Homo sapiens: one gene and its partners. The protein of the gene in region 4 interacts with the protein of the main gene of each other region in a biochemical or structural test. Each region holds a gene or a part of one and is shown on either strand. Other genes may lie near its edges.

Region 1 (7,034 bases), on a different chromosome or scaffold from region 4:
CTTTACATAATAATCATGTTTGCTTTACCATACATTGTGCCTAATTTTTTTTTAAAAATTAAGTTTGTAAGCTCAATTCAAGCCTCTTTTTATTTAATGTTTAGATTAGTACTAAAATGAACTACTAATGTCTGGGTCCTTTGTTAGCAAGGATTTTCTTTCAATACCTACCAGAAGGAGTGGCTTAGCTGTCTGAGTATCAGCTTTAAAATACCTAGACTTCCTGGAACCATAGATTGTATTCTTAGGAGGGCTGAGGAACTTCTTAATTATTCTGAAATAGGTGGAATGGCAGACCATTTCCTACACAAGTGTCTCTCTACAAAATCTTAAAAATCCAAATACTCTGTGGATTTTAAAAATTCAGTAACTTTTTTTCTTCCATTTGGAGAAATGTTCATTTGCTGTATGACCTCAGAAATCCAAAAATATGTCCTTTCCTTTTGCTTATCTTCTACAGTTTCTTAGCATGTTGTACCCTAAGCTATTTGTATATACTTTAACAATGATATTTATTTGCTTAAGCATTATACTTTCAATTGTGGCTGAGCTAGTCCATTCTAAGGGCTAGACTGCAGAGAACTACTCACTGAAATCCATGTGGTTAGAAAGAGCCCTTTTAAGCTTCACGTGGTATGTTCAACTCATGGGGTCTTTGAATTCTCACCACTTTTTTTTTTTTTTGAGGCAGAGTCTTGCTCCGTCACCCAGGCGGGAGTGCAATGGTGTGATCATAGCTTACTGCAGCCATAACCTCCTAGGCTCAAGCAATCCTCCCACCTCAGTCTCCCGAGTAGCTGGGAGTACAGGCATGCGCCACTATACCTGGCTAATTATTTTTAATAGAGATGAAGTCTTGCTAGGTTGCCCAAGCTGGTCTCGAACTCGTGAGCTCAAACAATCCTCTCAAAGTGCTGAGATTACCGGCATGAGCCACCACACCCGGCCACAGTTTCGTTTTAACATCTGTTAATCCAAAAAATTTCTTCAAAGTCCTTTGGTGATTTTGTCAATGCTGCTATTGATGTTTTGTTCTGGGAGGAAGCTCTCTTTCACCCCATTGTATTTTAGAAGTTTCAATGCAACCATGGAATGAGGATTTTCATTACAAGCTTTTTGAAAGGTGCAATAGTCTCAACATAATGAACTCAAAATCTCAGTGCATTGAAGGGTTTGCATGCCAAGTTGACCAAGTGCCTAAACTGTATAAACTCCCTATGTGCACACTTAGAATTGGATCATCAGATTTGTCTAAACAACTTGAAAGGCTTTGCTATCTGTTCACTGAACAGTCATTATGATGTACACACCTTTAAGAGGGACTCAGCCCCTCCACAACTGATAATGAAGGAAGAATCTCCAAGTGAGGTGAGGCAGCTGGACTTTGCAGGTCTGACTCTTGTCCCCTGCGATTCACTTTTCATCAGCAACCTGGAGGAATCAGAACTAGGCCCTGCTGAACAATCTGGAGATGAAAATCAAAGCCGGGAAGTACAGCTTCTCCTGGATTGGATCTCGATTTGACTTTTTTCTTTTTTCTTTTTTTCAAGGAACAGACTGGGTTTCTTCAGAGCATTATATCAGGGATTAAGAGAATCAGTAGACTCGGGTTGTTTTGGTTTTAGAAAAAGATCTCAGACGATTATTTAAATTCCCTATGCCTTGGTTTCCCTGTGAGAAAATGAAAACAGTAAGGCCTGGACCCTCCCAGTAACAAAGGGGCAGATGTTAAAAATATAAAGGATTCTAGCTTTCATATAGGAAATGCATGTGCAAAATATTACTCATTTATTAAGGTGCATGAAAATTTACTGTTAACAACACAGAAGACTAATATGTATCATTGATGTTATTCAGGTCTTATAAAACTCTAGTGGCCAGTCGTGTTTTTAATGCCAAGAACCCCGAGGAGCAACTGGTTTCTAAGAATCAACACTTAGTTCTGAGCCGAGAGATGCCCCAAGGAAGATAAGAGACTTACAGTTTGTTTGGCGTCCAAAAAGCTTTCCAGACAGCAGTTTGTTTCCTTTCCCTTTTTATGAATGGTGGTAGTATTATGCTTCAGTCTGCGTTTTCTACCAAAGCCATTCATAAAAATAAAAACAAAACAAAATAACAACAACAAAAACTTTCTCGGCACAGTCTGGAGCCATTGGGTGCCAGAGGCTGGGAAAACATCCTGGCAGCCATAACCCCAACCAACATTGAAAGTATTCAAGGGTCTGTTTGTTTGGTGGTCTGAAAAGTATGAAGTGCTGTGTCTGAGGGTAGCTGGTAGAAGTTCCGTGACACGGACTAGGCCGGGAGCCAGGGCTGGCAGAGATTCAGACATTGTCTTTCCCCTCATTGAAGTGTCAGGACCTAATTCATGGAAAATTGGGTGAGCTGGCAGCTCTTTCAGAGGATTTCATTGAGCTGCAGTGTGCAGGAGTCACATGAATGCGGGAGCCTCTGCCAAAAAAGGAGGGGGATTTCTGAGCAGTAGGAACCAGTCAGCCTGCAAGAATGTATGTGGATTTGAAACGGTTTGGGAGTAAACATGTGTACAGGTGTAATCAACAGGGAAAAATGGGAGGAAGATGAGTGCTCTCTTCTTCCAAATGACCCTTTGGAAATGAATCCTCTATTAGCCCACGCTTTTGTGTCCTAAGAGGCAAGAAGTCCTCATCGTTCTTGGTTCGATTTTCCCTGGAGAAAACATCATCTCAAAACTTGGGCTTTTGTGATGACGTCATCTTTACTGTGATTTAAAGTCAAATGGAAGAACGTCTTTTCCTTTGAGCAAAAGTACCTTGCCATTTATTTTATTTTTATTCTGTCCATCTAAAAAAAAAAAGCTCTAATGATTTTTATATGGAATTTTTAATGTACCAGCAATAAACCACTGTACCACTGAGAGGAACTCTGAGAGGAAGGGGCTCTCAGAATGAATGAACAGGGGCTAGTGAATAGTGAACGTATCCTAAGTGCTGTTATTTGGGAGAACTGGTGCAAGAAAGCATGTCGCTATCCACATCAGAGTACCTCAGGTGTACTCACAAATCTCAGCGATGTGTAGATAGAATAATACATGCCTATATTCAGACATGAGAGTGAGGACTGGAAGCAAATAATCCATCGAAAAGCTCAGGCTTCAAATCCATCTTTTATAATGCCAAAGAAATAAGAAGTATTCTCTAATACTCGATTGGAAAGTTAGGCAGGCAGAAAAACATTCCCTCGGATGTTTCACTCAAAAGAGGAGAGTTTTGCTCTACACATACAATAGATACAGATATAACACAATATAACACAATATTCTTCCCATGATACCACGAAGAAACTGAACAAACTCACAGAATTATTTGCAAATCATAAGGGACTTGAATGCAAAACATTAAAAGAACTCTTACAACTTTGTTATGAAGAGATAGCAAATTTTTTTTAAATGGGCAAAGGATTTAAATAAACATTTCTTCCCAGGAGACATATAAATGGCCAATAAGCACATGAAAAGATGCTCAACATCATTAGTTGTGAGAGAAGTTCAAATTGAAACAGCAATGATGTTTAACTTCACATCCACTTGGATGTCTACAAGCAAAAAGACAGGCAATAACAAGCATTGGCATGTATACGGAGCAATTGGAACTCCAGATTCATTGCTGGTGGGACGGACTGCAAAATGGTACAGCTGCTTTAGAAAGCTGTCTGGCAGCTCCTCAAAAAGTGAAACAAAGAATTACAATATGAACCAGCGATTCCACTCCCAGGTACATACCCAAGAATGAAAACATGTTCGCACGAAAACGTGTATATAAATGTTCATAGTAGCATTATTCATAATAGCCAAAGGGTGGAAACACCCCAGATGTCCACCAACTAATGAATGGATAGGTAAAATGTGGTATACCCATACAAGGGAAAATTATTTAGCATGAAAAGGAATGAACTGCTGATGCTACCACATGGATGACCCTAGAAAACCCTAGGCCAGTGAAAGAAGCCACACACAAAAGACTCTACATATATAGTATGATTCCACTTACATGAAATGTCAGGATAGGTAAATTCATAGAGACAGAAAGTAGATTCATGGTCACTTAGGCATGGGAGGTGGCTAGGGACGTGGAGGGTAGTGGGGAGTAACCACTAATGGGTACAAGATTTCTTTTAGAGGAGATGAAAGTGTTCTAAATTAGACTGTGGTGATGGTTGCACAACCCTCTGAATATACTAAAATATACTTTAAATGAGTGAATTATGTGGTATGTAAATTATGTCTCAGTGAAGGTGTTTTAAAAAAATAAAATATTAACAAATTAGGTACCTTCACTCCTCAGTTTTGTGATATATAGGCTAAAAACAAAGTGAATCAAACAGTTAAGTTTCTTTCAAGCTAGTTGGCTTGTATGCCAGAATTTAATTGGGAATTGGAATTGTTTTCACTGAGATAACCTATGTTGTATTTCCTTAATATAGAGAGATCATGAATAGACATTTTTGTTTTTTTTGAGATAGGGTGTTGCTCTGTCACCCAGGCTGGAGTGCAGTGGCATGATCACGGCTCACTGCAGCCTTGACCTTTCTTGGCCCAGGTGATCCTTCCATTTAGGCCTCTGAGTAGCTGGGACTACAGTTGCAACGCCACCACACCCTGTTAATTTTTGTATGTTTGTAGAGAGAGGGTTTCACCATGTTGCCCAGCCTGGTCTACAACTCCTGGGCTCAAGCCATCCGTCCGCCTCTGCCTCCCAAAGCGCTGGGATTATAAGCGTGAGCCACCATGCCTGGCCAAGTATAAACACTTTTAACATTGGATATACCAGTTGAACTTTATACTTTCCTCTTTCCTTTGCAGACAAGTATCTGTATTTAAAATATGTACACCTAATTTTTTCTATAATGTATATTTTCTTTTAAAATATATCTTTTTCTTTTCCTCCTTAGCCACAACAAGTTGTTCAGAAGAAGCCTGCTCAGGTAAGACATAGTCATTAATTTTTTTCTCCCAATTAATATAAAAAGTGAAATATGTACTGAAAAATGTCCCCAAACTAAACCTTATTTCGCATTTTCTTACTTTTGGTTATCGTCCTGCAGTATTCCTGAAAATGTGTTGTAGCCTTCAAAGTTAGGAATATATAGTCTGCAATCGTACCATGAAAACCTCCCAAAATGTAAGGTCTTAAGTGTACAAAGCAAATATAAATTCTTTTAAAAATAAAACTATTTTATTACATTGCCTCATATGTAAAACAAATATTTAATCTTATCCTATATTTTACCAATTCTTAAACATCAAATTTTGTCCTTCCAACTGACTGTCTATATTCTGTTGACACCAGACTTATATTTAATGATTCATGACTGGAAACATATTTCTTCATTGAACAATTTCATAATATTTGATGATCCCAAAACACTCCAAAGAATGCTAGAATACTTGGAAATTAAGTTATACTAACGTGCAGACTGATGCATTCTTAGATCTTATTTAAATAACTGAATCACAGTCTCTGAAGTTTTTGGCAACATCAAATTGGAAAATAGCTCTACGTCTCTTGCCCCATATTCCTGGAGCACCTTGTCCTCACTATAATCTGTACATAGAAACATTAAAAAAACATATTTATTGAGGAAGCATATCTTGAAGAAAACAAAACTGAAGTATAAATTAACCAGGATTGCTAATAATGTGAGCCAGTATTAAAGTATAAGAACGTCCTGCTGTTCTCTTCCCTTCTGTATGTAAATAGTCATTGGAGATCCAGGTGGTATCATGCTGAACCTGCTAAAATAAGTAGTAAGCAGTGTCATGAGCTATCAAATTAAGTAGAACTCTTTCATGTAATTTTAAGTATCCATGAAATTTTTTTCCCTAGAAGTCTTTACAAATCTACCTTGCATCCTGTTTTCTTAGGTCAATGTTGCCTTGCCTGGGAAGGACCACCCGGGCAATCTTATATATCTACTGTTCTCTAAAAATGCCACTTAGAAGAGAATTGAAACTTCCAAACACATGAAAGGATCCAAGGAAAGTGTCTTCAAACAATTACATATGAGCTTTAAGTGGAATAAAAACAGAGTTACCATGAAAAAAATCATTTTCATTGCTGCTCCCATACCTAAAAGCTAAGAGTGGGAGAGGGGTGCTAAAAAAAACCCAGTGTTTGTGCGTCTTTAAGCAATATTTAAAAATATATACATATAAACAAAAACTTGACATTTTCATTAGGAGAACCCAAATATATTTAGCCTCTCATCCTTTAACTGTACAAAAATCAAGAGAAAGTAAATTGATAATTCTGTGCATTTGAGTCAAAGGATGAGGCAGAGTTCACATTTGCATCACAGGCTGTGAACTATAGATTAATCACTTTATGTGGTTTGTTAATATTGATTCAGCCCTTGTGCTTAGTGTCATAGGGAAGATGAGTCAAACAAAGAAAAACAGTCACTGCATCTGAGAAATGTATTTATATGTATATGCCTGTGTCCTATCCAGTGGTATGCTGGAACCAGCCCTTGTGAGCAAATAGTGAACATCTCTTCTGAATTCTGTGTTCAGTGATGTCAAGTAGGTAGCTTGAAATCCACTATGGTGGGAGTATTTACACCATGGAAAGTGACAAATACTACAAATCAGGACTTTTTTTTTTCCTGAGGAGCAAGTAGTTAAACATTTACCTCCCCAGCATGGCCCCACCCTTCAGCGATTCTGTTTATTTGGTCTGGAGATCCATCATATTTTTTATGAACTCCCTAAGTGAGTTTAATATGCAACTAGAGATGAAGACACTCCATGAAAACACATGAGAAGATGTCTGAACATTTGTTGAGCAAATGACCACAGAATGTCAATGTGTATGGGACACACGGGGGATACAGATGAATGAGTGGAATGCCTCAGGTTATCAAGGGGATGATAAGACTGGAATTTTCTTGTTTTGTTTGATTTTGTTGTTGTTGAGTTGCAGAAGGGAAAACTGAAACATAAATTAAGGGAAAGAAATTACAGATGAGATGAATGGCATATAGAAAGGTAGAGAGGC
Region 2 (7,294 bases), on a different chromosome or scaffold from region 4:
TCAAGTATCGCATATGGAGAGATAGGCAATGTTGCTGCCACTCTCGACCCTAGTAAGGAAGGTTCATAGGGGTCTTGAAAACTTCATCTGTAAGACATGGAGACAATACAGTGCCAGGCCACGCGCCATAGCTCATGCCTGTAATCCCAGCACTTTGGGAGACCCAGGCAGGCGGACAGTTTGAGGCCAGGAGTTCAAGACCAGCCTGGCCAACATAGTGAAACCCTGTCTCTACTAAAAATACAAAAAATTAGCTGGGCGTGGTGGCGCATGCCTGTAATCCCAGCTACTCAAAAGGCTGAGGCACAAGCATCAATTGAACACAGGCGGAGGTTGCAGTGAGCTGAGATGGTGCCACTGCACTCCAGCCTGGGTGACAGAGAGAGATTCTGTATCAAAAAAATAAAAATAAAAAAAATGCAGTGCTCATCCTATAGGGTTGTAAAGATTAAATGACTTGTACCCACAGAGCACATCACATATATACTATCTGGCACCTACTTTGAACATCATCATTCAAACTCAGGGGTACGCGTCTCCTCTTCCCTCCTCATGTACCAAAAGTACCCATTCCTCAGAAAAAACACATGTTCACACAAACTTTTCCAGTTAGTTCTTTTTTCATCTTTCTATTAAAGATGAAAATGTAACTTTTAATAGCTACTCCTAATTTGATCTTTTAAAATGAAGTTTCCTTTTCAAAACTCTAGAACATAACTAAGAGTTGTTCACTTTTTAATGTTCTACTCCCCCTACAGTCCACTTTCCACACAGCAACTAATAAGTGCTGTTTTTGAAACAGCAACTCAGATCTCAATTTTCTTGCCCAAGCCCTCCAACAGTTTTCCAAAGCCAAGACCTTCATTTAGGGGAGATGCCACAGCTAGGCTTATGAAAGTCTCAACCCAGGCCTAACAGAAAGGAAGTACTGGCATGTGCTTGGGGCGGAGTGGGCATGAGTGTAAACTTTCAATCCCAGATACTCAAAACATCTCAATCCGTTTCAGGTCCTGGAGCTTTTGGGGGAAAATGTACCAAAAGTACCCAGTCCTCAGAAAAAACACATGTTCACACAAACTTTTCCAGTAAGTTCTTTTTTTGGGGGGAGGGGGGTCCATAAACCCCCTGATTTAAAATCTGCTCTCCTTCCACAGCCTTCTCCATCTCAAAAATGGCAATTCCATCCTTCCAGTTACACACCCCCAAACCCTTGGTTATCCTTGACTCCGATCACACACCCACATACAATCTGTTGGTTCTGTCTTCAAAAGCATGTAAAACTGTCAGCATGTCCACTGCTCCCATCCTGGTCCACCACACCATCTCCTAGATTACAGCAACAAGCTTCCCACCAATGTGCCTGCTTCCACTTTTGCCACCCTGAGGTCTTTCACACATCGAAGCAAAAAGAATCCCTTTTAAAAATGTCAGACTGCACCACGCCCCTGCTCAAAAATCTCCCAAAGGGTTCTTTTCTCACTCAGGCTAAAATCCTTACTAAAGAGCTAACACCTGACAACTTTTACAACTTCACATTCTACCACACATGGAGGAAGGTTGGAAGAACGGGTATCCTCCATTTATGAGGGAATCACAGACCAGAATGCCTGCAGGCAAGCCAGGATCTCAGCATACCTGGCCTACAATCCCCCACCCCACTTCATCAAGAGATCCCCAAACACGGAAGAGAAAGGGAACTTGGGAGAAGGGCACAGATCCACAAATCTCCTGCCAGGTGACCCCCATCTCTCCACACAAACACACACACAAAAGAAAAAGAAAGCCTGTACTAGGAAAACAGACCCTTTGGGCCATGGTGGAAATTCTCCAAACTCAATGAAGCAAGTTCTCACACAGATGAGTGCGGGTTGGGCAGGCCAGATGGAGGAAGTGCTCAGGCACCACCGAGAAGGATTCTAATGTTGTTCTCTTTGAGAAAGATAAAGGTAACAATTAGAGCTAATACTATTATATGTCAAGCACTGTGCTATTTTTTTTAACGTCGCTTAATCCTAACTGGCGCCATTTTATTGATGAGAAAACAGAGGCTCAGAGAGGTAAAGCCACTTGCCCAAGTTCACACAGCAGGCTAAGAAGCTGAGCAAGAGCTGACACACTGAACTGAGGCCCTTCTGCTGTCAAAGCCAGGACCCCCTCATCATTCCACCATGAAGGGAGTGGTTTCAGCAGAATCTAGTGGAAAATCTTAAGAATAAAACTACTTACCTCCTGTGACAACCACCCGCCCCACCACCCCAGACTAATGCCGAGCTTGTTAAGTCTCGTCCCGGAGGTGGAAATCTTAATCCCCAAATCTCCACTCCATCCCCGGGGATCCGCCCCACTGTAAGTGCAGAAGGCGGGAAAGTGAGCCGAAGAGCGCCGCACACGGCCAACCGGGGAGTCCTCATCCACTCCGGCCCACTCGGAAAAGCTGGGATGCGGGATAAGGGGATGGTGGTGGTGGCAGCGACAGGGAAGGCAAATGGGGGCTTCCCACACACAGCTCCAGGACCCAAGGTCAGGAACTCTCCATCTCCGACCCAAGCCTGATTCCCAAAACACGCCCAGCGATCCAAGACTCCAGATGCCTGAATCCAAACTCTAGCCCAAGACCCTTGAGTGCCGCCTCCTGCCCAATATCCAAAATCCCTATTAGACGGCCTCAATGAGACGAACCCCACGTCAACACCCCCAATGCCAGGCCCACGGCCTTCTTCGACTCACGACCGTGACCTCTGAAGCCAGTCACAAACCCCTAGACCTGCTGGAATCAGAATCCCCCTTCCCACAGGAGACTGGAACCCGTGCTCAGAACCCCTGCCCCCAGGCCAAGGCCCCACCCCTCCGATTCTGGCCTGGCACCCGGATTCCCGCCCGGCCTCCGTCCCTGACCCCGGACCCTCACCCCAGCCTGACCTGGCTTCATGGCGAGCCCTGGTTTGTGCGGCTCCGGAGTCCGCGGCGTTCACAACTCCACGAGTCCGGGGCTTTCGCACGTGGAAAAGAGCGCAGGCGCGCGGCGACGTGCGCTGCGTGACGCCACCCCGTAGTCCCGCCCCCGGGCCCCTTCCCCGCCCGGAGCTCGGCGCACGCGCAGTGAGCCTGGATTCTCGAGCCTGTCGACACGCAACCCGCTGCCCTCGCTCTCTGCCTTCCCAGCCTTTGCCTGTGCAGCGGTCGCCCTAAACTCGCTTCCGGTTTCCTCTTCCCCAATGCGAGCACCCCAATAATCAGGGCTCATAGCCTTCGCACGGGCTGTGCCCTCTTTTGTATTCCTAGCTAAATCCCTCTGGCCCCTGTACACCCAAAAAGGCTTCCCCAATACATTTCCAGCCCCAAGAACAGTGACCGACTCTGGGCTTCCATTCAAACATCCGAAAAACATTTACAGTGCACCTCGTGTGTACCAGGTGCTGTTCTAGGAGCTGGGAATACAGCGGTGTACGAGACATAAAAATCTCCACTCTCCTGGAGTTCATCTTTTTAATGGAGGAAATAGACACCAAACATGTTGAATGTTTGAAAGCGATAAGTGCTTTGGAGAAAATAACAGCAGGGAAAGGGGATAGAGATTTTGGAGGGCAAATGATTTTTGTTTTTTTGGCACGGTGGTCAAGGAATGCATCAGGAGACTTTTGAGCTAAAGGGCTGAAGGAAGTGAGGAGTGAGGCATGCACCTATCTAGGGGAAGAGAGTTCCAGGCAGGGAAAAGATCTGCAGATGCAGAGGCCCTGAGGAAGGAAAGATATGGGAAGTTGGAGAGACAATGAGGAGGGTGGGTGGGGCAAAGTGAGCAAGGTGGAGAGTAAGAGGAGATAAGGGCGGGTAGCTAACAAGGGCAGATTGTGCGGAGCTTTGTGGGACATAGTGAGGACTTAGGCAGTAAGATGGAACCATGGAAGGGTTCCAAGCAGAGAAGGAATGTGATCTGACACAGGTCCCTCTGGCTGCATGTGGGAAGCAGACTGCAGGAGTGAGGGTGAAAGCAGGAAAACCAAGGACTGGCTGCTGCCGTGAATCAGAAGAAAAGGATGGACAGATCAGAGTGGGGGCAGAGAGCGGCGTCAGGGGTCAACAGATTCTGCTTAAGTATTAAGAATTTTGGGCTTTGTAATTGTGTAATATCAGTATCCATCCCTATATTCATTCTGCAAAGCAAGACAACTGCTGTTATGAGAAGTTACCGAAAAACTCCAGAAGAACCTACCAGTCCAGAGCCTAGATGTTGACTCTGTTCCATTCACTGCTCTATCACTCTAGGCCTAGGACAGCCCTCTGGGTGCCCAGTAAATGTTTGTTGAATGAATGGATGGCCTCATACCGTTGTGAGTTCTCTGTGTACAGTGTTCCAGCTGTGGAATGCCACCAATTTGCACAGAAACATTCCTGAAAGATTGTTTAGATATTATGATGGAAAATCTGCTTAAACTTTTCAGAACCGGTCGGGGCAGTGGCTCACACCTGTAATCCAGGCACTTTGGGAGGCCGAGGCAGGAGGATCGCTTGAGCCCAGGAGCTTAAGGCCAGCCTGGGCTACAGAGTGAGACCTTATCTTTACAAAAAATAAAAAATTAGCTGGGTATGGTTGCTTGCACCTGTAGTCCCAGCTACTCAAGAGGCTGAGGCAGGAGGATCCTTTGAGCCCAGTAGGTCTAGGCTGAAATGAGCCATGACTGCACCACTACACTCCAGCCTGGGTCACAGAGCGACACCCCTGTCCCAAAACAAAAACAAAAACCAAACAAAAAAAACTTTTTAAAAACTATGAGATGAAATAGTTGAGTCTATTCTGGATTTCTAGATGTGCAATGATTCCAGTGGGTCCAATTCCGGATAATGTTACCTATTTCACATGGATTTTACTATTTGCCTTCTAATTAATATTTTTCTTCTAAAGGACAAAAGTACTCAGAGTGCAGTGCAGATTTAGGGGATTCCAGCCCTATTTCTTGGAATCCTGGCACCATCTCCTGCTTCTGAGATACTTTGCCTGCTAGCTTGCTCTGAAGACCTGAAATTGGCTCTATCGGTAAGTAATTAGTGGTGGAGGTGCCTGTTGGTCTTGTGCTGGGGACACAATGGTGGCTAAAACAGCCCCGGGTCCTGTCCTCCTGGAGCTGCCAGTCCAATAGGAGAGACAGACAGGTTCCCAAACAGTGTTGGCCCAGAGGGGTCAGGGCTGGGACAGGCAGAGGGGTAGGAGGGCAATGGGGGAAGCACCGGCAGAAATGGGACTGGGGAGCCCCAGGCAGGGGGCTCAGGGCCAGGATAGGGGAGGCCCAGGCAGAGAGGTGGGAGGGGGATGGAGGAGACACTGGCAGGCAGGGCAGGGCAGGGATAGCGAAGCCCTTGAGGACTTTTCCCAATATTCCCCATTTCCTCAACTCCCTCTGAACCTTCCTGTGACCTTCTTGCTCTAAGGAGGACTCTGCCCTGAAGACCTCCCTTTCCAAGCGGGGCTGTTTTCTCCTTCTCGGCCTTCATGTCCACTGGATCTGTAGATGGGAGAAGAGCGTCCTTGCTCCTCACTGGCACTTCTAAACCATTGTCTCTGCCTCCTCCCTGAACCCTAGGTCTGAAGCTTACACAGTCACACTGTAGCACCTGCTCCCCTTTGTGCTGCTAGACCCATTGACTCCCAAGTCACCTCTGCTCACCTCGTCATTTAGCTTCAGGCTCACTGTCACCCACACCACTCCTGTCATTATTCTTGGTGATTTTCAAATTCAGGTAAATGATCCTTTTACCACTCTGGCCTCTTGGTGCCTTGACCTCCTCTCCCCCACTGCACTTGTCCTCCACCCAACCCTTCTTTCCCATGATCACACCTAGACCTTGTGCTGGGAACACACAACAACACATAACTGTGACAGCCCCAGAGGTCCCAGCCTGGTGGGGGAGAAGGACCCATTCTAGATGGCAACAGCCGCATAACCACAGCCCCTACAGAATCTCAGCTCCATGCATCTCACGCTCTGCCCGTCACCTCCTGTCTCTCCAGCTCACTCCTTCTAAAGATTGCACCAGTGAGCCTTCAGCCCTAACCATCCATTAAGCTGTCTGACTTGTTGCTATCCCTCCCCCAATCATGGCCACACCACTCTCAACTACCTAGCCAGATTCCCCACCATCATTATTACCACACCTTTGCATACCTCCAAACTATGAACTGAATTCAACCCTCCATTTATTCTGCACCTGCACCCCTGGCAGCTGAATGTGGATGGAGAAAAATACAGAATCACCCTGGCTGGTCTCGGTTTTGATTCATGACTACAAACCCAAATGCTTAATGCTGACCAGCAATCCTATCACTTGCCCCCAGTCTATTCATTCTCCATTTTTTCCCACCCTGTTGATGGTATAGATAACACATGGCCATGGGCTGAATTGTCTCCCCACACATTCACTTGTTGAAGTTCTCACCCCCATTGTTATGGTATTTGGAAGTGACAGCATTGGGAGGGATTAGGGTTGGAGGAGGTCATGAGTGTAAACCCTCATTATGGGATTAGTGACTTTATTATTATTATTATTATTTTTGAGACAGAGTTTTGCTCTTATTGCCCAGGCTGGAGTGCAATGACATGATCTCGTCTCACGGCAACCTCCACCTCCCAGGTTCAAGCGATTCTCCTGCCTCAGCCTCCAGAGTAGCTGGCATTACAGGCATGAGCCACCACGCCCGGCTAATTTTGTATTTTTAGTAGAGACGGGGTTTCTCCATGTTGGTCAGGCTGGTCTCGAACTCCTGACCTCAGGTGATCCACCCACCTTGGCCTCCCAAAGTGCTGGGATTACAGGTGTGAGCCACCGTGCCCGGCCAGGATTAGTGACTTTTTAAGAGGGAGAGAGGGAGAGATGCAACCCAGGAAGAGGGCCCTCACAGAGAATCACATCAATCAGCACCTTGATCTTGGACTTTCCAGCCTCCAGAGCTGTAAGAAATAAATCTCTGTTATTGGAACCATTCAGTCTATGGTATTTTAAGACAGCCCACACAAACAAACACACATGTATTAATTTTTAAAACTTTATTAAGGTATAATTTACATACCATAAAATTCACCCATTTTGGCTTGGCGCGGTGGCTCATGCCTGTAATCCCAACACTTTGGGAGGCCAAAGCAGGCGGATCACGAGGTCAGCAGTTTGAGACCATCCTGGCCAACATGGTGAAACCCCATCTCTACTGAAAATACAAAAATTATCTGGGTGTGATGGTGCATGTCTGTAGTCCCAGCTACTCAGAGGCTGAGGCAGAAGACTCGTTTGAACCCGGGAGGCAGAG
Region 3 (6,859 bases), on a different chromosome or scaffold from region 4:
TGCTGTCACCTGGCTCCCCCTGCTGGGTGCTGGGTCTCCATTTCTCCCTCCACCCACCCTCAGCAGCATCTGCTTCCCATGCCCTCACCATCACCTCACTGCCCCCAGGCCTTCTGCCCTTTGTGGGTGTTGAGCTCACCGCCCACCCACAGGCACTCATGGGAAGAGGCTTTCCTTCTGGGATGGGGGCGGCTGGTAGACACCTTTGCTTTCTCTAGCCCTCCTGGGCTGGGCTTGGGCACAAATCCCCAGGCAGGCTTTGGAGTTGTTTCCATGGTGATGGGGCCAGATGTATAGTATTCAGTATATATTTTGTAAATAAAATGTTTTGTGGCTAGGGGTTTTGATTTCATCAAGAGGCTTAAAATGACCTTCCCCGGAGGTGATTCCAGTGCTATTTCCCCTCCCTTCCTGCAGCCTGAAGGATGGGGGCCAGAACACAAGTGTCACCCATCCTACCTGCCCCAGGCTTTAGGGGCACACACCACAGGAGACTCCAGTCCAGAAAAGGATATTTTTTTTATTCAAGTAACTGCAAATAGGAAACCAGAGAGGGAGCCCCAGGCTGGGACAAATCATGGCTACCCCTCCCCAACAGAACAGGGGGAGGAGGTGGCCCCTACACCCTTTATGGTCGATTTGGGCCCCCTTGCTCACTCTGCTGCAGCATCCTAGGGGCAGGGCCCCACCTTCCCTGGGACTGGGGTAGTCGGTCACCCAGCCTGCCATGCCCCAGCCCCTCTTCCCCACAAAGAGTATCTTGGGGGAGGGGATCGTGGGCAGAACAGGAGGCAATGAGGATGAACATTTGGCGCTGGTAGCAGCAGCAATGACGGATGTCGAAGAATGGAACATTGAACAAAAAACAACACAACTGTCCAGAGGTAGTTTGTGAACAGAGGAAAAATGGAACCAGAACCTTGGGGGGCAGGGAGGAGCAGGAGGGGGGTTGGGAGCGGGCAGGGTGAGCTCCTTGTTATTGGTGCCCCATCTGAGGAGGGGGAAATGGCTGAGTGGCGGAAGCAAAGTAGGGTTAGGGGAGCAGCCCCAGCCCACCTCAGGTGGCGGCCACAGGGCTCTTGGGCCTCACCTGGACAATAAGTGACTGCATCTCCATCACCACAATATGTACTCAGATCCCAGGCGGAGGGCAAGGGGGCTGTGGCCACAGTGAAGAGGGAGTAGGGGACTCACCCCTCCTGCCTTCCTGTAACCGAAGGGGGCTGTCCAACCTAGTACGGGGACTAGGGAAGTTGGGGAAGGATGAAAAGTGAGCCCCACGTGGTGACAAAGACAGTTTGGCTGGGGGAATCCTGGGGGCCAGCACCCCCCTCCATTGGCCACACCTGCTGCTGCCAGGGCAGTGGAGTAGGGCGTGCCAGGATGAGATGGGGCTTGGGCCCCTTTTAAGGCCAGGGGAACCCTCCCAGGCCCCACTATGGGAAGCCAGAGGGAACAGTGAAGGAGCAGAGAGGGCGCCCCCAAACCAAAAGCCCAGAGAGCAATGTCCCCACCACCAAGGGAGTGGGGACGCAGCAGGTGCAGGGTGCGGCTAAGTGGGATGTTAGCCTTGTCCAGGAGGGCATGTGTGTATGCGTGGGTGGGCGGGGGGAGCTGGGAACTGAGGCCAGGGGAAAACTGCTCCCCACTCAGCCCATGGGAGCCCTGCAGCGGCTGGTGTGCTGTGTAGTGTGGTGGTGAGGGCACAGGTGGAAGATGGGGGTGGCGGCCAGAGGCGGTGGTGATGGTGGGCCTGGGGAAGGGGTGGGGGCGGTGGGAGCGGAGCAAAGCTGTCCAGTCCCAGAAGGAAGCTGCTCCTCCAGTGAGGAGCAGGCGGCACGCATGGGTCACTGCTCCTCCTCCGAGGACTCCTGCGAGATGCCCTCCTCTTCCTCCTTCTCCTGTGAGGTGGGCAGTTGTTGGTGTGAGCTCTGGCCCGGTCCCCCTCTTCCACCCCCAGAGGCTGGCCCCACCCGCTCCCTGCACTCCCTGGCTCTCCTGAAGAGGGATGAGTCAGGGCTGAGTGTGTGGGTGACTCAGCAACCTCCACGGCCCGGCTTCATTCATAAAAAGAATTTAAAAGGAGGAAAAAACCCCACACACATGCTGCTCTCACCCAGAGCCAGGAGCCAAGCCCCCTTGGCCCCCAGGCCCAGGGAGGGCAGGAGGGCAGAGCTCAGGGCAGCAATGAGCTTCAGGATGTGACTGACTCCCTAGGGGAGAAGAGGAGGTGGGGGAAGAGGTGGCTGGGGGAGGAAATGGGAAGGGGTGGCTGGAAGGTGCAAGAGCCCGCTGGTGGGTGCAGGGGAACCAGGTCCTTGGCCCACAGGGGCAGATGCTGTGCTGTGGTGCCCTGGCCCTCCGGGGTGGCCGAGGGCTGACCCTAGGCCGGGGTGGGGAGGAAGGGGAAGTGTGTGCCGCCGGGGCTCACTCACTGGGCGGGAATGTCGGGACACCACACGGGGCTACAGCCCCCGTGCCAGGCACAAACTCCAAAACAACTTGTTTCCTGTTACTCACTCTTGGGGCCTGGCCAGCAGCACCCCCTAACCCCCCCACCCCAGCAGTGGCTCAGCTCAAGGAATGACAGCTTCAGGGATTTGAGGGGGCAGGCTGGGGGTAGGAGAGGGCCAGGAGCTGGAAGGCTGGGGTGACCCTAACTGCAGTGGCCCCCTAGAGGCAGCTTCTTGACTCAGCCCACCGAGCCTTTCCACCAGCTGTTTGGGGACCCAGAATTGGATGGTGCCCTCCAGTGCAGTGTGGTGGGTCACATCAGAACTCCAGCACCGACCCCTCCCAGGGCCCAGCTCCTTCGCTGTTTCTCTTCTGCAGAGGCTCATAGGAAGGACAAACCTTCCCCCTATGGCTTCCTTTCCTCATCTCTAATTGAGGGGGACACAGGCTAGATGACTTCCAAGATCTCCCCTAGAAGTTCTGAGTATTCTAGGAGCAGGAGAGGGAGGGACCCCCACACACAACTAGGGCAGGGCAGGGCAGGGGGATGTGGTCTGATTTATACCTGGGACCCCTCACTTCTCATGGGCACAGCCCAGGCCAGGTACCTTCCCCTCTCTGGACTTCTGTAAAATCTGATGTCCCAGCAGGTCAAGGAGAGCCTTTCCATAGGGGGTGCATAGCATCAGGTACTGTGTACTCAACACCCTCAACTCAAAAGAGCCCAGGAGGCAAGCAGCAGTCTGCTTCTTCACCTACCAGTTTTTTGGGTCTGCCCCTTGGTTTCCTTCCTGGAGTTGTGGTGGTTTTCTAGAGGGTTAGAGAAAATATCTCCTAAGTCCAAAATGCTCATCAGTGCTCACCCGATGCCCAATAGTGATGGGGGGCAGACCTACCTGCCTGTTCAGGGTGACCCAACACTCTCACCCAACAGGCCCACCCAAGTCCAGCTGGCAATGACTGGCCAGCCACATTTGCCCCCTCGACATACACACACGCCCCCTACTCCCACCTCCGCCCATGACTCAGAGGATATGAGTCGTGTCTTAGAAAAAATAAAATAAAAAACAAAACAACTTTTCTGAAAGGCTAATGTCACTGTGAATCTGGCCTTTGCTGCCTGTCCCCACCCCTTCAGGCTCCAGGGAACCCCAAGAGAAGGTAACATTCTCAGCCCAGGGACTGGCAGGGACCCTCCATTCTCCCCACTCTGCCCTTCTCTAGATCAGGAAAGCTGTGGGACTTCTGACCTGATCTCCGCAGTGTCCTGGGCAGGACCAACCCCCCAGAAGTAAGACCTTAGTCATCGCCCCACTCTCCCCAGTTAGCAAAGACTCACTGCCATCCCTGTACCAGGGAAGGGGGTACACAACTGAGATGACTGAGCCCCTTCCCAGACCTCCCCACAGCCGTGGCCATGGTGCCAACAAGAGGATCCTCTGCTAGTCATCCACCCAGGGGTAGTCCCATCTCAAGTCTCACCCGGGTCTTGGCAGCACCCTTGTTTTTGCTTCCCTTTGGTCGGCCCCGAGGTCTCTTAGGTGTTGGCACTTCGCTGGGCTCCTTCTGTAAAGACAGAGGGGGTAGTCAGGGACAGTCATCACCTGTTTCCACCCCCTCAGAAGACACAGCCCTCTGCCTCCTCAACAAGGTTAAGTCAGCAAGAACCAAGAACCACAAACCATCCCTGACCTAGGAATCCCTTCAGGATCCAAAGCTCCAGTTTGAGCATCTTTGCAAAGTGCCTCCCACCTCTCCCCTTGCTTCCCTGCAGGTTTCTAAGATGCAAAATGACAAGAGCCCAGAAGACCCCTAGGAAAGGCATTCTGGGGACAGAAAGACAGTTAGGTGGCTCTGCCCAAGTCTCAGTTCTGACACTTATCTTGGGTGGGACACTTAATGCTGGAGCCTCAGTTTCCTCATCTATAAATGGTGAAGACTTCCCTTGCAGGGTGTCATGGAGATTAAATGGGTAATGTATGGTTATCTAGCACTGGGCCATGATCACTGCCCACCCTCTCAGATGACCTATGCTGGACACACACTCCCTGCCTGCACTTGCAAACCTGGAGCCCATCCAGGCTGCCCCCAGAGAAGGGGAATTATAGCCGGACTCCAGAGATCCCTGCCATCATTCCCACTGAAATTTTAATAAGCCGTAGATAGAATAAAAAGCTGCTGCATAATGCATATAAGGTGTGTGGTGAAGGCGCGCCAGCTACTGTTTCCTAGGGGGCCGCCCATGGTCTGTCTATAACCAGGGTCCAGTAACCCTGCACCCCTCCTGACACCTCCCACTGACCATGGCTAACAGGTGGGGTAGGAGGGGAGGCTGAGGGAGCTAGGCTAAGAGGACAAATGACCCCACCCCAGGCTCTGAATTCCAACACAGCAGACTCCTCACAGCTCGTGTCTCCCTGGGCCCAGGTCAGCACAGACCACTCTCCACCGTACGGACAGGGAAAACCTGCAGGTGAACAACCTGTATCATGTTTAAGGGGCAGAGGTCGAACTCAACTCCTCTTACCTCTCTCCCAGGGAAGGGAAGTAACTGGGCTTCACCAACAGCCACCCTTCACTTGGGTGACAGCTGCCTCTGTAAGAGGCCAATATGGGGTCCCCCCCATGCCCAAATGGCCATGCTCCCTAGGGTGCCCCACAGCGCCAGGCTGGCAGCCTCATCCTTCTATGAGGACTTTGTGGGGAGAGCAGCACCAGGGTTCTGAGGGTCACTGCCACCAACTCCCCAACATTTTTGACTTCTTGGGCTTCAATTTCCATCTAAAGAGCCAGGGGCAATGCCCATTCCAGAACTACTCATAACTGGCCTGTGCACAAACAGGTGCTGGCCCACGCAGGCACCCGTTTCTCACCTGGGATGAGGAAGTACAAGAATCGACCATAAGTATTCAGCAACTTTACAGCAAATTGACAAAAATCATTTTACGTGCACTGAATCTAATGATTAAAAACCCTGGGCTTCTATGTTCATTTTTGTTCATTCGTCTTTACTGCATTTTAAAATTACTGGTCCACAGTGGATTGGAAATTAAGAAAAAGGCGAGTGTTTTAAGCACTGGCCATGTGACCTCTGGGGTGCTTTAGGTTTGGACTGTTTGCCATTGGCTTCAGAATTTATCTTGAATTCCTCGGCCCCCGGTTCTCTCCTGGGGTCTCTATAGAGATCTGACCAGGGTTGCAAGTGGGGCAGGAGTACACACAGGTGGGAGGACACACCCACACGCTTACTGCGCAGAATCATTCTGCACCCTCCATGCATGGTCTCGCCTGCTGAATGAAACTCCAGGCACCTCCCTAGCCCCAAAGGGTAAACCAAGTGAAGCAAAGGTTTGGACACCCACCTGACTCCCTACCAGCGCTGTCCCGGGACTCACCGGAGGCTGCTTGCGCGGCCTGCCCCGGCCCCGCTTCTCAGTGCCGTCCTTTTCCTGCTTGGAGGCCAAGGGCTGGCTGGACTTCGAGCTCGACTCACTCATCTTCCCTTCTCTAAGGAGCAGGTGGAAGAGTGATGGCTGGGATGCTGGGAGACAGAAAAGTGCTTTTAGACAAACATCTCGCTTCAGCCACTTTCTACCCCCTCATCACCCACACCTTCAAGGCACACTGCAGAAAACTGTGCTCCCATGGGCCCCCAGGCCTCCTACTCTGCCCAGGATGGAGGGGTCTGCCCACCCCCAGATGCTGCCAAGGGCGGGGAAGGGCCGTTGGCCCTAATCAGCTTCTTATCTATCTCCTGTTCAGAAGGGCTCTTTGTTGTCCTGCCTTAACACCGCCCCAGTGCAGCGTGGTGGGGGGGGTCCCAGGAGGTACAGCCAGCCCAGACCTAGCTACATGGGTGAGGCCACCCTGGGACAAAGGTGTGGGGAGGTGAGATCTGACGTATTGCCAGCATCCCCTCCTTCTGTAGTCAACTGCTGCCCTTTCTCTTTAAGAGAAAATCCAGCCTACGCAGTTCAGTGGGAAAATGGAAAGAATGAGACCTTGCGATCTGGCAGCTATGGACATTGATCCCCTGCCCACCTCACTGACAATATTGCCTATCTGGCAAGGTGCAAGACTCAGGACCAAAAAGAGCCAATCACACAGCCAGGGGTGGTGCCCACCACCAGCTCTCTTCTCTGTTCTCACCCAGGGTAAATCCCTGGAGAATTCAGATTGGTATAATTGAGGGAGGGAGGAGATGGTTGAAGCTAGTGGGTGAGGTGGGGGAGGAAAGTGAGCCCAAAGCCAAAGGCCACCCTCCTCTTTCCCCTTACCCCTCCTCTGCCCAACTGGAGTCAGATGGGACTTTGTCAGATGGGTAGGGAATTCTCCAACTGAAATGCACCGCCTAACAGACCCTGGCTGGCCCTCATCCTTTAGGATGAGGTTTAGGGCTCATCCT
Region 4 (7,000 bases):
CTCTATAGTATTTATCAAATATATAAAAAATAGAATTTGGAAGAATATTCTCATTTATCACTTAGTAAAGGAATTGTTAAATCAAGTTTTTTTTAAAAAACAAACCAAACCACCAGAAACCTACTCAAAATCACACACTCAAACTCTAAATAAATATTTGATTTAAAACATAGAACACCTTATAAGGAGCTCTATTTTCCCTCTAGCTTAAGTCTAGCTTGCTGTGACTGTAGCATTTACATGAGATGATCACTATCTTAGCATCAAAATGGTGACGGTTACAACTGTACTGCTTGCTACTCAATTATCTTGTAAATTGATAATTTTGTACATGTATATCTCTCCATGATGGAAGATCTGTGTTATATACAACCAAAGTTTAGCAAATTAGTTTTTATACTCTAATACTTTAATATGCAATGAATAAAAGGGCAGAAAATTCAGAATTACAATAAATGTTAGGCTATTTCAGAACACCAGTTTTTCACACCTATTTTCTTAGCATACAGAAGCTCGAAAATCATACATTAAGCATAGTTTGAATTGTCCTGAAGTTATATTCTGAAGGGGCTGTAACACTTAAGAACTAATAATATTAAAAAGGCAAAAGCATTATAACTCACAGCACACAAGACTTTTTACCTCATCTATAAAACGTGAGAATGTCAATGTTTTATTGGCTACAAGGATAAGGAAGGAAACATCAGAGAAATAAATTTGATAACAAGATTCACACTTCATTACAAGTGATTTTCCTAAATTCACAACTTTCACATTTGGCTGAGTGAAAGAGAAAAACAAAACAAAACAAAACAAAACTGAAAAGGGAACTTTCACTACTTGTAAGTAGGCCAACTCACATGATCCCTCCAAATGAGAGAGTTTAAATGAGAATGAGTATACTTTTCTAGCTGGGAAAATATTTTCCTTAATTAAGTGAGTTTAAATAATTTACCCATGGTGATGAATAAGCCCTTGGGCTAGGCTCAGAAACCTCCTCTACCAGCCTGTTTCATAAGAATTACACAAATATTTTTATGGGACATACAAGAAATATTTTTTGGTTATAATAGTAGAGACAAGAATTTTTAAAAATCCATACTATTTCTTTCAGGTCTCTCTCTTAAATGCACCTTCTGAGTTTCTTAGGTATGCTGTACAATTACAAAGTCCATTTTACTTAACGGATTAATGTGTTCATCAACTTTAGCACCCTATGATGTATGTGGTCAGAGTAATGAGAACAGGGCTATTTAAACTGCTTCCTCATATCCTTCCCCTTAATTACCAGTAGTGAAGTTTACCTAGAAAACAATGAGGAAGAAGTACCATAGCCTACAGGCACCTAGGGAGGGGGAATTAATTCGGACTGAGAAAATATGGCTCTGGAGAGATACTAAAGTCGTACTGGAAATGTATGAAGTCTAAATGAACCCCTTTCTCCCCAGCTTCAGACTTAGATAAGGTGTGAGGTGTCAGGGATGTGCATGGACCCTTCAAAAACTGACATTTTCATCCGTGTTCTTCCCCCTCACTCCCCCGCGAAACAAAATATACGGAAATACAAGTGCTTGGTACTACATGCTTTTGAGGCTAAATGCCCAATAATAAGCACGCTGTATCCGTTGTTGAGGGGGATCACTTTTTAAGTAAACATCACCAGAAGAATCTCTTCAAATGGAGAATGAAGTCACTCTCCCTCCCTAGAGGCTATGAGGGAAAAGGGGGAGATATTCCCCCTACTTGCACGTGGGATCTCCCTTTCCCCTCCGACCTCGCTACGCCTCTCCCACGCAGGTCAGGCTGCTTTGGGAGGTAGCTGGGAGAAAAGGCAACGCTCAGTCCTCCATGGCAAAGTCTTTGGTCTTCTCCTCCTGGTCTCCCACTTTGTAGCGCAGCAGCACGCGCAGGCGACGGGGGTTGTCCCGGGAGGGCAGCAGCGTGATCTCTCCTGAAACGTCCGTGTCTTGCTCCACTTGCACCGGCTCGTTCAGGTAGAGGAGCGCCTGTTTCCAGTGAGTGGCCGGGTGAAAAGGCGAGGTGGACAGCACCAGGGGTTTCTCCGACTCCCCTCCAGGGAAGGTCACCTGGAACCAGATGGCAAAGCCATGCATGGGCGCCGAGCCATAGCAGCTGCAGCGGAAGCGCCCGCCCACTCCGGCCTCCAGCTCCTGCTCCAAGCCGGCGCGGGAGAGCTCTAGCTGAGCAAAGCGCTGCGGCCGGGCCAGCACGTCCTCGCCGGACAATCCCTGCACAACGATCTCCGAGTGGCCCATGAGACAGCGCGTGGCGAAGCCCTCCAGGCAGCTCATGTCCACACCATAGTGCTGCTTCACCTGGCTCCAGAAGCCCAGGCGCCATTCCAGCATCTGGTCGCTGATGGGGGCTATGAAGAGCTCGGCGGAGGCCGGCAGGAGAAGACCGCCCTCCTTCAGCCACTTGGTTCGCGCGTGGAGGACGGAGCTCAGCATGGACTCGTGCAGGAGTCCGTAGCCCATCCACTCGCTCACGATGGCATCCACCTGTTCCGGCAACTCTACAGTCTCCACTGGTCCCGGCAGGACGTGCACCCGGTCCTCCAGCCCGTTGAACCGCACCACCTCCCGGGCCTGTTGCCAGATGGCGCTGGCCTCTACCGCGTACACGCGCCGGGCCCCGGCCTGGGCACAGAAGATGCTCAGAATGCCGGTGCCCGCGCCCACGTCCAGTACCGTCTTGCCTCGCAGTGCTGCCCAGTTCCGAAGGATACCCAGGCGGTAGGCATCGGTGCGGACGCGGTCCGCGATCATCTCCTCGTGGACCGAAACGTCCGAGTAGCACTCGTAGTACAGCTGGTCCCGTTCCCGCTTAGTCCTCCGGGGTCGCTCCAGGGCCGCCTCCCGCTCCGCGCCATCTTCCTCTTCAGTTCCCTCCCCTCCTTCGCCGCCGCCCCCCGACTCAAGCTTTCTTTTCTTGGGCTGCGACATCTTGGCCGCTCTGCCCGGCTCCCGGCGGGCGTAGCGCGGCACGGCGCGGGCTCCAGGAAACGGGGGCTTCTGGGACTTGTAGTGCGCGCTCGTCCTTCCTACTTCCTGCGGGGTCGCCCGGCCGGCGGCGCGGAAGGTCTCCTGTGCCTGCTCACGGGAGCTGTTTTGTATTGCTCTTCTGGTGTCCTGGCATCCCTTTTCCCACCCACGACGCCCACATTCTGAGATCCTTTCATTCCCCCTCCCACCCTTAGCTCCTCAGTTTTTTGCTTTCACTCCCTTCCTGAAGTAGGCACGCACACTTAAGACTAATAATCCACCTTTGTTTCTTCTGCTGAACTCACCTCTGTTTTTTTTGTTTGTTTTTCTGTTTTTTGTTTTTTTTGAGAGGGAGTTTCGCTCTTGTTTCCCAGGCTGGAGTGCAATGGCGCGATCTCCGCTCACCGCAACCTCCGCCTCCTGGGTTCAAGCGATTCTCCTGCCTCAGCCTCCCGAGTTGCTGGGATTACGGGCGCATGCCACCAGGGCCGGCTAATTTTGTATTTTTGGTAGACGGGGTTTCTCCCTGTTGGTCAGGCTGGTCTCAAACTCGCGACCTCAGGTGATCCGCCCACCTCGGCCTCCCAAAGTGCTGGGATTACAAGCGTGAGCCACCGCGCCCGGCCTAACTCACCTCTGGTTTTATTCCACCGAATTAACATGGCAGCACCATCCACCCACTACCGCCTTAACTGGACAATTGTAGCTCTTAAAGTGCTCCAGCTGTGGCAATTTAGAAACTGCACTACGCATTTCTTTTTTCTGTTTTCAGTGCAGTTAGAGTGCAAATGTAACAAAATTAAAACCTAACAATGCAAAATCTTGGTTCTGATTCCAGTATGACCACTAATTAGTTGAGTGATTTAGGGCAAATAATAGAACTTCTCTGGCCTTTAGTTGCCCATTCACCCACCAGCGAATCTTCATTGCAGTTGGGGAAGAACTAGGTTTCTGGTTCTACTTAGAAGAATAGTTACTTGGCTTTCGGCTCTGCTCTGATAATTCTGTGGCTCTCTTAAGAGTTAAATCCTGAAAAGTGCAGACTCAAGAGCCATGTGATACAAGCAAACTCGTTGCTAGGTGTATTCTATATATATATGCGTTTTTTTCTCTCAGAAATAACGGAATCAATTTCTTTTAATCACTTTCTCAATGCAATTCATTTTTTCCTGTGTTTTCTTGTCCGGGCAATATTGACACTCTCCTCTTTCTCTTATATTTTTCTTGTAGTCAACCATCAGCTGTTACTCTCTTTTTGTTGTCCATAATGGAAATAAAATATGTTTTTAAATATGTGTGGCATCTGTATGGGTGTCCGTGTTATTAACAAGGTGGGCATAATGCCATTTTCTGCCAGCTTGAAAAAAAAGTCACTCAGAGTAAAATGGATTTTTATTTTCTTGTGGTCTTGAATTATGTCCTTGTAACCAATAGGCCTGTATTCCTTGTCTGGGATCAAAGTTCTTTCATCCTATTTTCTCTATTAATCTTTCATTAGCAGAATAGGTTTATTGATATGGCATCCTTAGCTGTACTCTACTTCTAACTCAAGACTCTCCATCCTGGCTGCTTATTAGAATTCTCTAAGGAGCTTTTTAAAAAATACCGATGCCTGGGTCTACCTCAGACCAATTAAATCGGAATCACTCCAGTGGAACCTGGGCTTCTAGTTTTTAAAAGCTCCCCAGGGAATTCTAATGGGCAGCCAGGGTGAGAACAACTGTTTCTCACTAAAATGATCTTAGTTAAATCTTGCTTCGTTATTTTAATTGGGTAAATTGTATTTTTTTCAGTGGCCTGGGCTCAACCATTTAAGGCTAAAAACCTTGAAGTATTTCTTCTCTTTTTCTGCCTTGGTTTAATATCTTATTTTAAGATAATTGAGGCCCAGTGTAGGACATCAGATTAGAGTTGTAAATGTGACCACTTTAATATGTTACTTTTATTAATAGGTTGTTACTTAGTGTATACTTTTGCCATTCTTTCTTTCCTCAAAATGTCACCTTTTCCTTTTAAATACATTCATTCCTTCACCCAATTTTCAATTCACTTCCTTATGGTCTCTTTTAAGAAAATTCTGAATATAAGTTTCACTGGTTCTACCTCCAAAATATATCTTGAATCCATCTGCTTTTCTCCATTTCTATTGTCAACACCCTAGTCTAATCTTCCATATTGACTTGCCTGAAAATTAGTCTCCTAAGGGATCGCTCAGCTTCTAATCTCAACCCTATCTAATCCCTTCTCTACATAGCTGAAAGAATAAGCTTTTATAAAACCCATTGGGCCATGTCATTCTTCAGTAACTTCCCGTGTTAGTTAATGGAACAATTCAGTAACTTCAGGTAACTTCCCATCTCATCTCATACCATTTTTCCCAACTCTTCATTGGGCTCAAGATATACTGGTTTCTAATAACACATTTCTTTCCTGTGTCAGGTCGTCATGCATACTCTTCTGGTGCTGAGAAAATTGTTTTTCTCCTTAGCACTTCACTTTAGTGGCTTCTCATCCTTCATGTCTCAACTTAAATGTTACCTCATGAAAAAGGCCTTTCCTGGCTTCCTTAAATAATATTTTCAAACCCAAGACACTATTTTGTTCCCTCCCAGCATTCATTATTATCTGTATGTATTTAATTAATTTATTTGTTTTCTATACAATATCAACTCCAGGAGACTTGGACTTTTGTATTCCCACTATTGCAGTCCTTAGCACTACAACAGAAGCTGGCACATAGAAAGTGCTCAATAAATAGTCTTGAACAAAGTCTATTGTGGATGTAGAGAGTTTTGCTTCATTAGTTCAATGTGACAATGTGACTTGGTAAACTCTGAGATAGATCCAGATATAGATAGAATGTGGAATGCTCCCAGAAATGAGAATAGTATAAATTTTAAATACTGTTAATGCTTCTAGATAGAATAGTGGTAAGCACCAAACATTATCCCTAGAGCAGATTAAAAAAGGTCTGTGGCACTTTCCTTTCCTGCCCTTTTATTTGATATAGAGAAGGAGTTCTTTACTGATCTTTTGTACCACAGTGAGATGTTTTAAGTAGGAAAGGGACCTAGATCATAGCCCTTCCCTAAGCCGTGCGGCTCAGCAGCAAACCACCTGCATGGGAGAAGAGTTGGAGTTCTGCTGGCAGAGCATTCTTAGTATTTTCATTTCAGCGATCTGCTTGCCACGTCTATTCAATGCTCAAACCCAGTTTTTCAAACAAATGATCTTGAAATTTTAATTTAGTGCAACTTGACCACCATTAAGAAGAAATAATAGATCAGAAAATACTAAATGTGTCAAATGAGTAAAGGTGGGTATTATTTCATAAAACTTGTTTCGTGGCTCACACCTGTAATCCTGGCACTTTGGGAGGCCGAGGCAGGCAGATCACGAGGTCAGAAGTTCGAGACCATCCTGGCCAACATGGTGAAACCCTGTCTCTACTAAAAATACAAAAATTAGCTGGGCATGGTGGCACGCGCCTGTAGTCCCAGCTACTCAGGAAGCTGAGGCAGGAGAATCGCTTGAACCCGGAAGGCAGACGTTGCAGTGAGCAGAGATTGTGCCACTGCACTCCAGCCTGGTGAAAGAGCGAGACTCCGTCTAAAAAAAGTACTGTATGTATATTTCTTGCTTCAGGTTATGGTTAAAAGTTTGAAATATACAGCTTACTGTTCTCCAAAAACACTATGAATTTTGGGACTTCTGTACTTTTGCTTTGCGTGCCTCTACTCTTCCCTCCTCTCACTCATCTTTTTAGCTAATGCTCAAATGATGTTTTTTCAGCCAGTCTATGGCCCTTTAATACATATAACTCTTTTTGCACTTGTATCATTGTATCAGAACTATTTATATATCTGGCTTTGGACTGTGGACATTTGAACACCAAGATTTTGTATTTTTCATTTTTATGCTGAGAACCTAGTGCATTGTGCTGGAATCTGGACCTTTCCATATTCCAGATTGTTGCTCCCAAGTATACTGAGGTT

Evidence for each region.
Region 1: of the proteins of PRMT6 (region 4) and HMGA2, one has a biochemical effect on the other in vitro, tested with the Homo sapiens proteins (one study listed by BioGRID).
Region 2: of the proteins of PRMT6 (region 4) and FBL, one has a biochemical effect on the other in vitro, tested with the Homo sapiens proteins (one study listed by BioGRID).
Region 3: of the proteins of PRMT6 (region 4) and HMGA1, one has a biochemical effect on the other in vitro, tested with the Homo sapiens proteins (2 studies listed by BioGRID, with this or other methods).

The regions. Positions count from the first base shown.
Region 1 is NC_000012.12:65,946,454-65,953,487, forward strand, and holds part of HMGA2 (high mobility group protein HMGI-C), read left to right. Parts: exon of another isoform or gene 1-1,671; intron 1,672-1,981; exon of another isoform or gene 1,982-2,254; intron 2,255-4,929; coding exon 4,930-4,962; intron 4,963-5,902; coding exon of another isoform or gene 5,903-5,977; exon of another isoform or gene 5,978-6,083; intron 6,084-7,034.
Region 2 is NC_000019.10:39,843,372-39,850,665, forward strand, and holds the start of FBL (rRNA 2'-O-methyltransferase fibrillarin), read right to left. Parts: upstream 3,009-7,294; 5' UTR 2,930-3,008; coding exon 2,920-2,929; intron 1-2,919.
Region 3 is NC_000006.12:34,239,873-34,246,731, reverse strand, and holds the end of HMGA1 (high mobility group protein HMG-I/HMG-Y), read right to left. Parts: intron 6,060-6,859; exon of another isoform or gene 5,996-6,059; 5' UTR 5,952-5,995; coding exon 5,817-5,951; intron 4,021-5,816; coding exon 3,937-4,020; intron 3,265-3,936; coding exon 3,214-3,264; intron 1,902-3,213; coding exon 1,848-1,901; 3' UTR 501-1,847; downstream 1-500. UniProt on the Homo sapiens protein: HMG-I/Y bind preferentially to the minor groove of A+T rich regions in double-stranded DNA. It is suggested that these proteins could function in nucleosome phasing and in the 3'-end processing of mRNA transcripts.
Region 4 is NC_000001.11:107,052,682-107,059,681, reverse strand, and holds PRMT6 (protein arginine N-methyltransferase 6), read right to left. Parts: upstream 3,009-7,000; 5' UTR 2,967-3,008; coding exon 1,839-2,966; 3' UTR 388-1,838; downstream 1-387. UniProt on the Homo sapiens protein: Arginine methyltransferase that can catalyze the formation of both omega-N monomethylarginine (MMA) and asymmetrical dimethylarginine (aDMA), with a strong preference for the formation of aDMA.